Homo sapiens: one gene and its partner. The protein of the gene in region 2 interacts with the protein of the main gene of each other region in a pairwise test. Each region holds a gene or a part of one and is shown on either strand. Other genes may lie near its edges.

What was found.
Region 1: the proteins of ZMYM5 (region 2) and LCE3B interact in binary tests that used the Homo sapiens proteins (3 or more experiments, as listed by UniProt).

Annotation. Positions count from the first base shown.
Region 1 is NC_000001.11:152,609,068-152,614,627, reverse strand, and holds LCE3B (late cornified envelope protein 3B), read right to left. Parts: upstream 818-5,560; coding exon 530-817; downstream 1-529. UniProt on the Homo sapiens protein: A structural component of the cornified envelope of the stratum corneum involved in innate cutaneous host defense.
Region 2 is NC_000013.11:19,860,650-19,868,391, forward strand, and holds the start of ZMYM5 (zinc finger MYM-type protein 5), read right to left. Parts: upstream 3,001-7,742; 5' UTR 2,801-3,000; intron 2,721-2,800; exon of another isoform or gene 2,178-2,720; coding exon of another isoform or gene 2,175-2,177; intron 1,818-2,174; coding exon of another isoform or gene 1,750-1,817; intron 1-1,749. UniProt on the Homo sapiens protein: Functions as a transcriptional regulator.

The DNA.
Region 1 (5,560 bases), on a different chromosome or scaffold from region 2:
AAGGGTTTTTTGTGTCTCTATTTCCTTCAGTTCTGCTCTGATCTTAGGCCTTTTTTAAGAGATTTTCACCAACCTCTCTCAACACCTCCCCTTTCTCCTACACTTCTATACTCAAATCTCCCACAGGGACTCCCTGCATGAAGAAAAATATGAACGTTTAATTTTCCAGCCACAAGCCAGTATTATTCTCTATGCAGGGTGTGCTAGACCTTCAGGAGCTGAGGGAGGGGAGACCCACTGAGCAGCCTTCTGTGGAGCAGAGTGAAAGACAAGTTAGATGCAGGTGCTGTTCAGAAGCTTTATTTCTCTGTATAATCAGACACAAGTGATAACATTGTCAGGAGGAAAGGAGGCTTCCACGATCTTGGAAAACACATGGGTGGAGCCTTTTGGAAAAAGCACAATTCTTCCCCATGAATGAATGGTTAATTAGCATGTCTAAGAAAGGATCTAACAAGTTGGGGCTTTTCCTTTTTCCTTGAGATACTTGTTTCCTCTAAAGTCGCTTGTCTCAGCATCAGGAATTAGGTCAGCAGCAGCCTCCAGAGCCATAGCCACAGTCGGAGGCACCATCTTGCTGACCACTGCCTCTGTCACAGGAGTTGGAGCTCTGGCGCCGGCATCGGTGGGACCTGCAGCACCTGTGGTGGCTCAGGCAGCAGCCGCCCTCAGAGCTGGGGCCACCACAGCACCCAGGTCTTGGAGCACAGCAGGAGGAGGCTGGAGGCAGACACTGTGCTGAGCTCTTTGGGGGGCACTTGGGTGAGGGGCACTTGGGCAGAGGCTGGCACTGCTGCTGGTTCTGCTGGCAGGACATCTTGGCAGGAGGTGACAGCCTGGATAGATAAAAGGAAAAGGTCAACGCAAAAGCTCCAGGCTAATGTCTCCTCTACAAATGGTTTTATGAAGCCCTTACTCCTAATACCAGTTGCTTCCTGAGATATGCACTTCAGGAATAAAAACAGAAACTGATCTCAAGTAAAACTGGCCTGGTAAGACATTTCCTTCCATTTTTCCCTCTTCCAGAAAAGAATGCTGGTGTCTTCTAACTGGGTCCCAAGTCCTCCTGTCTTCACAAAAACACTGATGCAAAAGCACCTAATTGAGTAATGATTCTCAGAGAATATCACTGGGCATGTATGCATCTCCCAGGAAAAGAGTGGAGAGAATGCTGAGAGCCAGGGCTCTGGTGAGTCACAGACTCCCATGCACCCCAAAGAGGTTCCTTGCTCACTGCCCCTTCCCCTACCCTCAGCTGCCCTCTGAAGTCCTCTTCCTGCTGTCTGTACATCTGACACCTCTGCTTCCCCCTTCCCTAGTAAAATCTGGGCTTATCTTCCCCAGACACCCCCAGCTGAGGGTCCCCTGCTAGATACTTGCCAGATACAGAAGATGCTGAAGAGGAGAAGGCTGTTCTCTAGGAGGCTGTGGATGAGGAGCCCAAGATAAGAGGCTTTTTATCTTGTGCAGGGTTAGAGATGCACAGACCAGGCATGCTGCTTTCACAACAAGGGGAGGTGGCAGAGCCAAACACTCCCATCCCAGGCCTCCAGCATCTTGCTTCATGCTTGCCAAGATGCCTGGCAAGAGGGAACCAGGAAGTCTTGATGACAGATCTCCACGTGTGTTGGGGACCTGTCATTTCTTCTCCTTTCACTCATTCAGTTTGGATGCTTTAGTTTGAGCTCTGCCTCTTGCACTTTGAGGGAGAATGTAAAGATGCATATGACACATTTCCTGACCTTGAGCCTTTCAAAGTTAACTGGACTAACATCAGAGATGTAAACTTATGTGTCTGATATGATATCATGTGATTCGTCCTGGGTATCCCAGGATGTCTTTTTTTGGACATCACTTCCCTATTCCTCTGCATATTCCCCAGGGGCATGGTTTGTTGAGATGTAATTGGCTCCTGACTCTTGGGGATGTTGGGTGATCTGAGACTATTGGACCCTGGGAGTGAGATGTATTAGGTAATGAATGGAGAATGGGACACAAGCCCTGTCTGGGGCTGTTGGGGCCCTTAAGAGAATTAAGGTAGGATTATATGAATAAGCAGACAAAATCATTAAGGAATATACAATAGTTGAGATCACAAGACTCATACTTAATATGAAAAAGGTCAATTTGCCCATATTTAGCTTCCCATGGGATATATGATACTGATTATAAGCAAATAAAATGGTCCATGAGCATAAAATATGTAAGATAGTTGGTGTGAGTCATGAACATGATTCGTTCAATGTATTGTTGATGATGAGGTTAGTGATGGTAGTAACATCATGTGCATCAAATTTAATGGAACAAACCTTATAAATTCTAAGGTTTCTGTAGGATGACATATAAAGTCTGATTTGTATTTTTCCCATTTGATTGTATAATAGTTTTAGACATGAATTTTTCACTGAATTCATCTCTATTATTATAATACCTGAACTTTGCTATTTGTTTCTAAAAAGTTAAAGTCAGAACTATAACAGAACATTAAATTTAAGTTAAATGGTAATTTTAAATAACACATGTTTATGGTAAATGCCTGTTATTGCTCCCTGTACTTGATAGTTTATGGCTTTTAGACAACAAACTCCTTATCAGAGTATGCACTTTACAACTTACCCTCTTTAAAACATGGTGGGAGGTGGGGGGCAGAATTCCATGATTTATTTTGAGATATTTAAGAGAAAGTGAATTGTCTCTAGGAATGTGGCTTGGGAATGGAGGAAGAGGAAAAGGATCAGACCTGTCATTGACTCCCCTCTCTGATATTCTTCTGCCTGCAGAAGCCTCTTGCTGAAGGGATATTTTTGGGCTTAGCCCCGGGACTACACTAGGTGTCCATTTCTTTTGCATTCTTTAGAACACACAAATTGCTAGTGCATTGGAAGGAATTACTCATGATGGTTGAAATGGGTACTTTCTCATTCCATACTGGTGAAGTTGAAGAGGGACACAATCTGTTGAAAAATTCAGTTAAAAAATTACTGGGGTTTAGACTTTGCTGCAAATCTGAACGTTTATTTCTCTGTATCTTGTATTTATCATAAGCAAGTCTTGTCCTCCCAACAGAGCAAGCATGATAGCCATTTTCCTGCATGGGTTGCAACCCTGAGTCATTGGCAGCTGAGGGAGGTAGGAGATGGAAGCGTTAATTGAGAAAGAAACATAAATCACACATTTTGGGCAAGTTTCAAAGGAAAAAAAATCCTTGCCTATGACATTCAATATATCGTGTTACCGCTGTTTTATAAAACACAATAGATGACTGTTAGGCTTTCCTCCAGCCCCATTCTTGACTGCCTGTCTTGAAAGCCTCCCCACAAGACCTGGAGAGCTCATTAATCTCCCTTCTACCTTAGTGATTGCTCCTGTCACCACTCTCCTCTTCCTGAAATCAGGTGTCCACAGTTCTCACACGCACAGGATTTGTCCCGTGATGACAAACAGTAGCTATAAGATCATGATCTTGTCACTTCCCCTACAGCACAAGGGCACCTCCCTGAGAATCACTAGTCCTGAGAGTCCCATCCTGAGGAGCCTTGGCTTCCTGTGGCCCAAAGACATCAAGGAAATACAGAGACTGCTCTGGCTGGATGAATCCAGGAAAAATTTCATGACTTAGTCATTCCAATTGGTACTATAGGAACAGGCACTGCAGGACCTCAGATTTAGCCCCTTGGAGTGCATTTTGGACATTCCACATCAGCAATCAAGGATGAGTCAACAAACAGAATTCTTCTCCCTTTGCTTAAAACTCACAGTTCCTTCTCCATTCTGTTCCTGCCATGTCTGCGACAATCAAATTCCATGGCAAGCAGCTAAGTTATTCTTAAGGAAAATGGGAAGCAGTGGCCAGAAAGTGCCATATACCTCCAACGTGCCTAAGTTTCTTATATGGATTTGAATTTTTCCCTCAGATTAAATAGTATTTTGAGATATTTACACCGCTCTATTCTCCTGAGAAAGCTCTGGTAGGACCCAGTGTGTAAGAAGATGTTGGACTCAAATTTTCTTCTTGTATTACGATGTTGGCTGAAGTCAAAAGATGAAAATAGTAGATGCCTCTTATCCCCATATACTAAAGTAAACTTAGGATAAGCTGCTGAAAATCTCTGCAAGACTTGCTAAGAAAAAAAAATAGAACTCTATTTCTCTGGTTCAGCTATATATTTGGAAGGTTGAACTTTGGTGAGAATTTTTTAGATAGGAAAGTTATTATCCTAAAAGACAATGATGTAGTCTCCCCCTAATCTTGTACATGGGAGGGAAACTGGTTGTTCTCCTACAACAGAGGTCAATTGAAAGGGCAGGATTCACAATGACAGCCTGTAGATGTTAGAGATTCCTTCAAGAAAGAAAGACAGCATTTTTATCCCCCAGCAGAATGTCTGCTGTAGTAGTAGACTTGATGTTCTAACCTCTGAGCCTATTGTTGAATAAAGAAAAGGAACTGAAGAGATAGAACAGGACATTGAGACATAACAGCAGATGACATCTAAGAAGGAAGACCAGCTTCCACAGTCTTGCTAGTGTTGTGCTTAGGATGGTTTTCTGTTGGGCAGACAGACCTCATTATCGAGAAGCCATGGCTGGTGCCAACGAAGGTAGGAGCTTAGGGAGTACGTGAAGGGTTAAATCCGACTGCTCATCCCATGTCTGGAAATCATGCTGTTAGGAAAATGCTTGAAGATACTCCAGGACTCACAAAAGCACCCTATAAGACAGCCCTCCTGCAGAACCTGCCACACAGAAGAAGCAGAGACAGCCCTGCCGCAGAACCTGCCAACAGAGGAGGCTAGTGGTACAGTCACATGTGTAATGATTCTCCCTCCCCTTTTCCATCTCCCAATACAATGGAGGAGGAAGGGCTACTGAGGAAGAAGGTGGAGGGGTGGTAGTGAATGAGAGAAAGAGCCCATCATATTCCCCTTCCAACTCCAGTCTCCTGGGAGATACCTGGACAATGCTTGTGTGCAAGGGAGAATTTGAGTTTCAAATTTTGTTCAGAATTAAATTTAGCTGGTCTGGACTTTAGTATCCATAGAAGTGACTGACGAAATGTGGAATTTCCCTGAGGTATTTTCAAGAGAGATTCAACAGAGCATAGGAAAAAACAATGACCGAAAAAGACAATGCTTCATGTTTTTATTGTACTGACTTTAGACTGTTCAATACACAACTTAGTAGGCTCTTAGGTTTTTATAAGAAAGGGGCAGTTTTGGATTCTCCCACCCTTTCTAGCATCAATCAAATCAATAAATGCCCAGATTTCAGGTCCCCAAGGACAAACGAGAAGCAAGTTCAGGAATGTTGGTGGAAGCTTCATAATGACCACACACAGGTACTGTAAAGGCAACTGGAAGTAGAAACTGGGTAGTTACTGGAGACATGATGGAGTTTGGAAGGTCAGGGAGGAAGTCTTTCATGAACAGGAGTATCTTAGAAGATCAAGAGGGAGGACAGGGAGTTGGGTGTTGGATGGTGAGAATATTCATGTGCTACTTACCTGTAGTCCATGGGGAAAAAGGAAAACTCTCTGGGAGGCAATAGAAGACCCTGACCA
Region 2 (7,742 bases):
CTAGTCTCGAACTTCTGACCTCAGGTGATCCACCCACCTCGGCCTCCCAAAGTGCTGGGATTACAGGTGTGAGCCACCATGCCCAGCCAACACTTCTAATATAAAAAGAACTGCTGGAAATTAAAAGCTTAGTGGCAAAAAGGAAAAATTCAGCAATAAGAATTGAAAGATAAAGCTGAGAAAAATCTCAAGAAATAAAGGAAAAAATAAAGAGGATAAGGATTATATCTCAGGTGGGGGGGGGGGAATTGTATCTCCCACTAACTATATGCATGTATATGCGCACGTGTGTGTGTGTGTGTGTGTGTGTGTGTCTCAAACCTTATGGACCAGGCTTTTTTTTTTTTCTTAAGACAGGGTATGGCTCTGTCGCCCAGCCTGGAATGCTATGGCACAAACACAGTTCACTGCAGACTCAACCCCCTGGGCTCAAACAATCCTCCCAGCTTGGCCTCTCAGAGTGCTGGGATTACAGGAGTGAGTCACAGTGCCCAGAGCCACTTTACCCATTTTTTTTGAGACAGACTCTCTCTTTGTTGCCCAGGCTGGAGTATAGTGGTGTGATCACTGCTCACTGCAGCTTCAACCTCCTGAACTCAAGCGATCCTCCCACCTCAGCTTTCTGAGTAGCTGGGACTACAGGCATGTGCCACCATGCTCAGCTAATTTTTGTATTTTTTGTAGAGAAAGAGTTTTGCCATGTTGTCCACACTGGAACTCCTGGGCTCAAGCTCTCAAGCTATCCACCCACCTCAGCCTCCCAAAGTGGTTGGATGACAGGCATGAGCCACTGTGCCCAGCCACTTTACCTACCTACCACATCCTGCCACAGTCCTAAGTTTAACTAATTAAAGAGATATGCTGTGAAATGTAAGAAAATAAGAGCAAATAAGTTAGTAGAAAGCAACTAGGGTAAAAGGAAGGCAGGAATACTACTATGGGAGATAAGCTAATCACAAGTTTGTTTTTGATGAGCAATGGAAAACTGTTTGATCAGGGTTGAAAGGACAAAATTGGCAAGAACTGAATCCCAGATAATAAAAATAGAAGTAAAGCTTGTTAAAGAAAAAAAAATCATTTTGTCACTCCTAATGAAATTATTCACACAAGGATTGGTGTTAAAAGCATTAAGTGAATAGCTGACAGAGAAAGGGCATTTGTACTGTACCAAAATGAACACATAGATCACTGTCTAGTAGCAAAAAAAAAAAACCCGAAAAAACAAAAACAAACATTAACTTCCTAACAGAGAGAGATCAGGCCACTCAGATTCGGTGGTCAATCTTAGAATTAGGAATAGTTTGACAACTAGTTTATGTTATCTCCTCGTGTGATGCTAGCTGGAGGACTGTCAGGGTACATAAATAACAGTCTTCCTCAAATACAAGGCAAATATCAACGTCAAAACAACAGATTATTCAGTAGTGTTTCTTTTTAATCCAACAGTAAAAAAGTTTTTCCAATCTACTGGAAAAGAAAAAATTGTTAAATTCAAGGCACTTAAAAGAGAGCTAACTTTAAATCTTGTTCTGGAACTTGAGAGAGTTCCAGTGGTATAAATGTCAGCACTCCCCGTGCCTTCCCAGGGACTACCATGGCTTGGCTCTGGGGACAGGGGCACCCAAGCAATTAGCTTGAAGGCCAAGGCCTTCAAGATAACACAAAGGCAAATCCCTCAGGAAGAACACCCTACTACTGCACTAATTATATTAGACAGCAAAGCGGGGTAAAAAAAAAAAAACAACTCACAATGGAGATATTTCCTTCTTAATTTCTGCCAAAGCCTCACGACATAGGCTTGAAGGTGATTCCTGGTCCTAGAATGAGAATTGAAAACCAATTTCGGTACAACCAATCTGGATGCACAACCAACTCAACACCGTGAGGTGGCAAAGGGGTAAGAGGCCAAGGAGTTCCTGGGCTCTGCTACCCTCCCCCACCCTAATGTTACCGAGAAACTAAGTTGAAAAAAAAGAACTATAGGAACCGCAACGACGAGACAAAGCTAAAAGTGCTTCGTCCAACTGCAGTACTGGGGATGCAGTGGGCTCGGGGATCCGAGGCCTGCTCCCAGGACGGGAGAGGGAAGGGTAAACGTCGTCTCGACGCCAGCAAGGGATTTGTATTCCCTCCTAAATTTGCCCACCCAGCGTCATCTCTGTCACTCCAAGCACCATTTCAGAGGTAACGGGCGGCGCGCATCACCTCTGGGCCCACAGTTGCCTCAAGAAGTTGCCCTGGGGCCCCAGCAGTCGACGACAGGGCCCCAGATCCGCCATTAAACTCGCCCAGATCAGCAGCAAAGAGTAAAAGCCGCGCAGCGCCTGGGAAAAGATGAGCGAAGGAGGGGACCCAGCGGGGCAGAGGCAGAAGCCCTCGCCCGAAAAACCTGGGGACCTCGGCTCCGGCGGCAGGGTGGCAGCGCGGTCCTGACAGCGAAGACCCGGCCGGGGCGCCCCTCCCTCGCCCAACCCGCCCCCCGCCACTATGCGGCAGGAGAGAAAGAAAAATGCCCCGCGACCTCCCCGGGCGGCCGGCAACCCGCCCCGCCACCCCGCCTCCCCGCCGGCCCCGCGACCTCCGCCGCTGGCGACCGCCTCACCCAACCCTCCCGGCCTCGCTCGCACTCTCCCAGCCCCTCAGGCCGGACGCAAAAGCGCCGGTGACAGGAGGGCAGCCCCGAGCTGCCCTCGAGGCCCCGAAGCGGCAACGGCGACGGCGGCCGCGCCGCGGGGTATTAATCCCGGGTCGGTGGGAGCCTCCGGAGGCTGCTCTCACCCATCTCCGCCTCCCCACTCACCTCGGCCTCCGCCTCCTCCTCCGGAGGCTGCGCTGCTCCCAGCCACCCCCACTCTCAGCGGCCCTGGACTGGAAAGACAGCGGGGATAAGCGTCACCCGGTTCTGGCTGCGGCTGCGCGGAACGAACAAGCCCACCCCGCTTCGGCGACAAGCACAACTCCGCGAGGTCCAGTCCCGGCTTTTCGCGCTGGTGAGGAGGCGGAGAAGCAGGGGACGGCGCAGCAGAGCCCGAGGAGGCCCCACCCTCCGTGCGCTCGTTGGCTGGCGAGGGAGACGAGCCTGGGCGCCTTGGGCACGCCCATTGGCTCCGACGGCCGTCCTTCAGGGCGCCCCCTCGGTGGGGTGGCCGAAGAGCTGTCCGTCAGGTGCGGGCCACACCCGCGGCCCTGCAGTTCCACTCCCGCCTGCCAGCCCTCAACTCCCGGTCGGGTTGTCTCCCCGCCGGTCTCCCGCCCCCAGCTACCGGGTCCGCCAGGGTCAGGAGCCCGAGATTCGCCGCCCGTCGTAGCGGCCCGCTTCGGCCCCTCGGGGCCCGGGGCTCTCCGGGACCTACACAGCCCGGGAGACTCCGGCGGGGCTGCCTGCCCTCGCCCGAGCCCGGGGGCCCAAGCTGCGGCAGCGGCTCCCAACGCCTCTGCTCGAGGAGAGCGGCGGCCTGGATGCCCCAGCGCCCTCCCTGTCCAGTTCCTTGAAGGCCCCCAAGAGGGGCGAGGCCGGGGAGGTGCTGGAGCGGGGCCAAGTGAGCTTTCGGGGCCGCGGTTGAACTGGAGTCTTGAGTGCGCTGCGGTCAGTGGAGGCCCTTCCACCCTCGCCGCGCCCCGTGGGGAATAGTCCCCCACCTCCCGCCATGGCTGCAGCAGGAGGAGACGACGTCCTCCATTTTGTCGGGACAACTGTGGGAACTTGGGACCCCTCAAAACCAAACCCCGTGGGGCCAGGACTTGTCCCGGAAGCCCCGACTGGGCTCTGCCATTCGGACAAGGGAACAGCCCCAGCTGCCGGCGTCTGCGTCCGCGGGGCAGTACTGGTCGGGCGCGACGGTGGAGACACCCAGACGCAGCTCCCCGCCTCCATCAACCAAGATGGAGGGAGCTGCAGGCTCCCTTGGAGCTGGGCTCTCGCGGGTTGGAGGGGCTGAGGCCTGCCCTGGGGCGTCCCTGGGCGCCGCCGTCCTGTGCTAGCAGCCCGGGGCGCTGGCCCTGCCTAGGCCTTTTTACTGCCTGCCACCGTCTCCTGGTCCGGAATGGTTGATGGAGACTCCATGGAGGCTCCCTCCACAGCCCGCTCTATCGCGGGGCGCACCCGCTGCGGCCCCTGCGGGGAGCAGAATCAGGGACAGATGGCGCCCGGTGAGGGCGGGCCCCACAGGCCACCTCCACGAGGGGTCTTCTCTTTTGTTCCTCGTCTACACCTACGTCTTCGGCGGATGTCATGGTGCTGAACCATTTCCCGGACTCCACGTAAAGATGGAAGCGATTCCGCTTTCGTCTCGCCCTGGCGGTTCTTAGTGGGATTACAATTGAGGATGTTAGTTTGGATGAAAGTTGGTGAAATACTTACCTTATGTCTGGAAATACAGATAATGTGATTTTTAAAAAACACATTGAGCCCCGTTTTACTTCTGTGGTATGGTAAAGGCACAGGTTTATTCAATGAAAATCAGACGTTAACCATCTAATGCAGGGGTGGCCAATCTTTTGGCTTCCCGGGGCCACATTGGAAGAATTGGCTTGGGCCACACATAAAATACGCTAACAGTAACAATAGCTGATGAGCTAAAACAAACGAAAAAACCAAAACGCCAAAAAAATCTCATAACGTTTTAAGAAAATTTACAAATATGTGTTGGGCTGCATTCAAAGCCGTCCTGGGCCGCATGCAACCCCCAAGGGCTGCAGGTTGGACAAGCTTGATCTAAGACAAAAGCATGTTCACGGATTGATGAGAGTTCTGTGTAAGCCTTTGCATATTGCATAGTGCTGTATGTCATGGATATGCCTAATATCACCTACATTTTTTAGGTCCTCAGTTACTCTTTGGAAATAAGTGAATTACATGTAATGTCATCATTTTAATGACTGCTGTAAATTACAAGCACTGACTACCCTGAGTTCGTGGAGAAGGGCTCCATAGAGAAAATTTGAAGGTCTGACAGAAACTTTAAATGGTAAGCTCAGTAGCCACTTGTCATCTATTTTCTGATTATCTTTTTCACAATTTTTTGGCATTGATACTGTTCAAAGATTAAAATTGGGTAACATTTCTTTTTCCTGATAGTGGCAGGAATGACAGGTTCATGTCCCAATGAAAACGCTCACCTCAGTATGCTGCCATGATTTCGAGGGTTGTCGAAAATTTAGGAAAAAAAAGTCTTCATTGTTCAACAAGATAGTGTCATTTATTGTAAATCTTTTGATAATTCAGGACTCCCGGCTAATACAAAGTCACAGCATTATGACCAAGTCTACACAAAGGGGCCAGATAGCCTGCCTTTGAATCGTACTTTATTACTAGTAGCTGTGTGATCATCTTAACAGATAAGTTACTTAAACTCAGCCTCACTTTTATCATTTAAAAAATGTAACAAATACTTAAGATTTTTTTTTTTTGAGAATTAAATGAATTGGCCGGGCACAATGGCCCACGCCTGTAATCCCAGCTATTTGGGAGGCTGAGGCAGGAGAATCACTTGAACCCAGGAGGTGGAGGTTGCAGTGAGCCGAGACTGCATCACTGCACTCCAGTCTGGGCAACACAGCAAGACTGTATCTCAAAAAAAGAAAAACAAAAAACAAGCAAAAAAAGAATTAAATAAATTATCACACATATGACACTTAGAATTGCACCTGGCACATTAATTAATAAAAGCTTGTAAATTTTGCCTGTCATTGTTAATTCCCAATCAGCACAGTGGTACACTAAAAAAAAAATTCTGGCCCGGTGCGGTGGCTCACACTTGTAATCCCAGCACTTTGGAAGGCCGAGACGGGCAGATCACCTGAGGTCAGGAGTTTGAGACCAGCTTGACCAACATGGCGAAACCCCGTCCCTACTAAAAGTACAAAAGTAGCCGGGCGTGGTGGCGCATGCCTGTAATTCCAGATACTCGGGAGGCTGAGGCAGGAGAATCACTTGTACCTGGGAGGTGGGGTTGCGGTGAGCCGAGATTGCACCATTGCACCCCAGACTGGGCAACAAGGGCGAAACTCCGTCTCAAAAACTAACTAAATAAATAGGAAAAAATTCTTCCAGCCTAGGTAACATAGTGGGACCCAGTCTCTACAAAAAATTTTAAAAATTAGCCAGAAGTGGTGCATGCCTGTAGTCCCAGCTACTCAGGAGGCCGAGGTGGGAGGATCACTTGAGCCCAGGAGGTCAAAGCTGCAGTGAGCCATGATTGTGCCACTGCACTCCAGCATCTGGGTGCAGAGTGAGACCCTGTCTCAAAAACAAAAAAAAAAGTTGTTTATAATAATTTAATGACTTATTAAAGTAACATCAGCACTTTCTTACTATTGTAATATGAAAATATTTAATTCTTGGAGTTAATATGTAAAATAAACCGTAGAGGAAATGTAATTGGAACCAAAATTTATTTATTCTTTGAAAGTGGCTTAGTACAGCCAGGCGCGGTGGCTCACGCCTGTAATCCCAGCACTTTGGGAAGCTGAGGCGGGTGGATCACCTGAGGTCGGGAGTTCGAGACCAGCCTGACCAACATGGAGAAACCCCGTCTCTGCTAAAAATACAAAAATTAGCCAGGCGTGGTGGCACATGCCTGTAATCCCAGCTACTTGGGAGGCTGAGGCAGAATTGCTTGAACTTGGGAGGCGGAGGTTGCCGTGAGCAGAGATCGCGCCATCGCACTCCAGCCTGGGCGACAAGAGCGAAACTCCATCTCAAAAAAAAAAAAAAAAGTGTTGTCTTACAATATTCTTAAATTGTCATCCCAAGTAATTCATAGGGATATTAGAAACATAGATCAAAAACAACTGGGGTGGGGAAGAGAGAAAAGAGACTGAGGGAATTAATGCTTATCTTGGACAAACCAGTGAAAAGCTATTTTAAGCAATAAATAATGAAAATTTATTAGAAGAGAAGGAACAGAATCTAAGATTGAAAAAGCATGAGATGACTGGTTGCTATATTTTTAAAAAGATCTCTAGAATCAGTAGGATGCTTTTTTTTTTCTTTGAGATGGAGTCTTGCTCTGTTGCCCAGGCTGGAGTGCAGTGGCGCAGTCTTGGATCACTGCAACCTCCGCCTCCCGGGTTCGAATGATTCTCCTGCCTCAGACTCTAGAGTAGCTGGCATTACAGGCATGCGCCACCACGTCCAGCTAATTTTTGTATTTTTAGTAGAGATGTGGTTTCACCATGTTGGCCAGGCTGGTCTCGAACTCCTGACCTCAAGTGATCTGCCCACCTCAGCCTCCCAGAGTACTGGGATTACAGGCGTAAGCCACTGCACCCAGCCTGAAACCAGTTTTATCTAAGACTGCTGAGATGGCTTGCTGCAACTTTAGGATTAATTTTGGCCACTGCCGTTGCTCACCATTTGGAGCTTGCCAGCTCCCCAGAACCTTACTAGTGCCAGAGAGCTTTCTCAACAAGCAATAGGTAACATTTCTCTTTTTCATAAAACCCCCAACCTTCTCTTTGTTCCTCAGACATGAAGAAAACCACCTGATCTGTGTATATGCCCCCAGCTGCAATTCTTTCTCTCCAAATAAAATGTTAGAGTTTCATCTCTACATTTTTATTTTTATATCAACAGTTGTTTTACAAATACCTTTCAAAGGGATCAATTATTTTACTATGATGAGCACAGTCAGAGATTAAAGCTTATGTAGTAGCTTTTGCTTTTAATCTATCCTAGGTATTCTATTGATAGTCATAGTGTTTCAACTTCGGTCATTTCAACTTTGCTTCTGAGCCCTTTT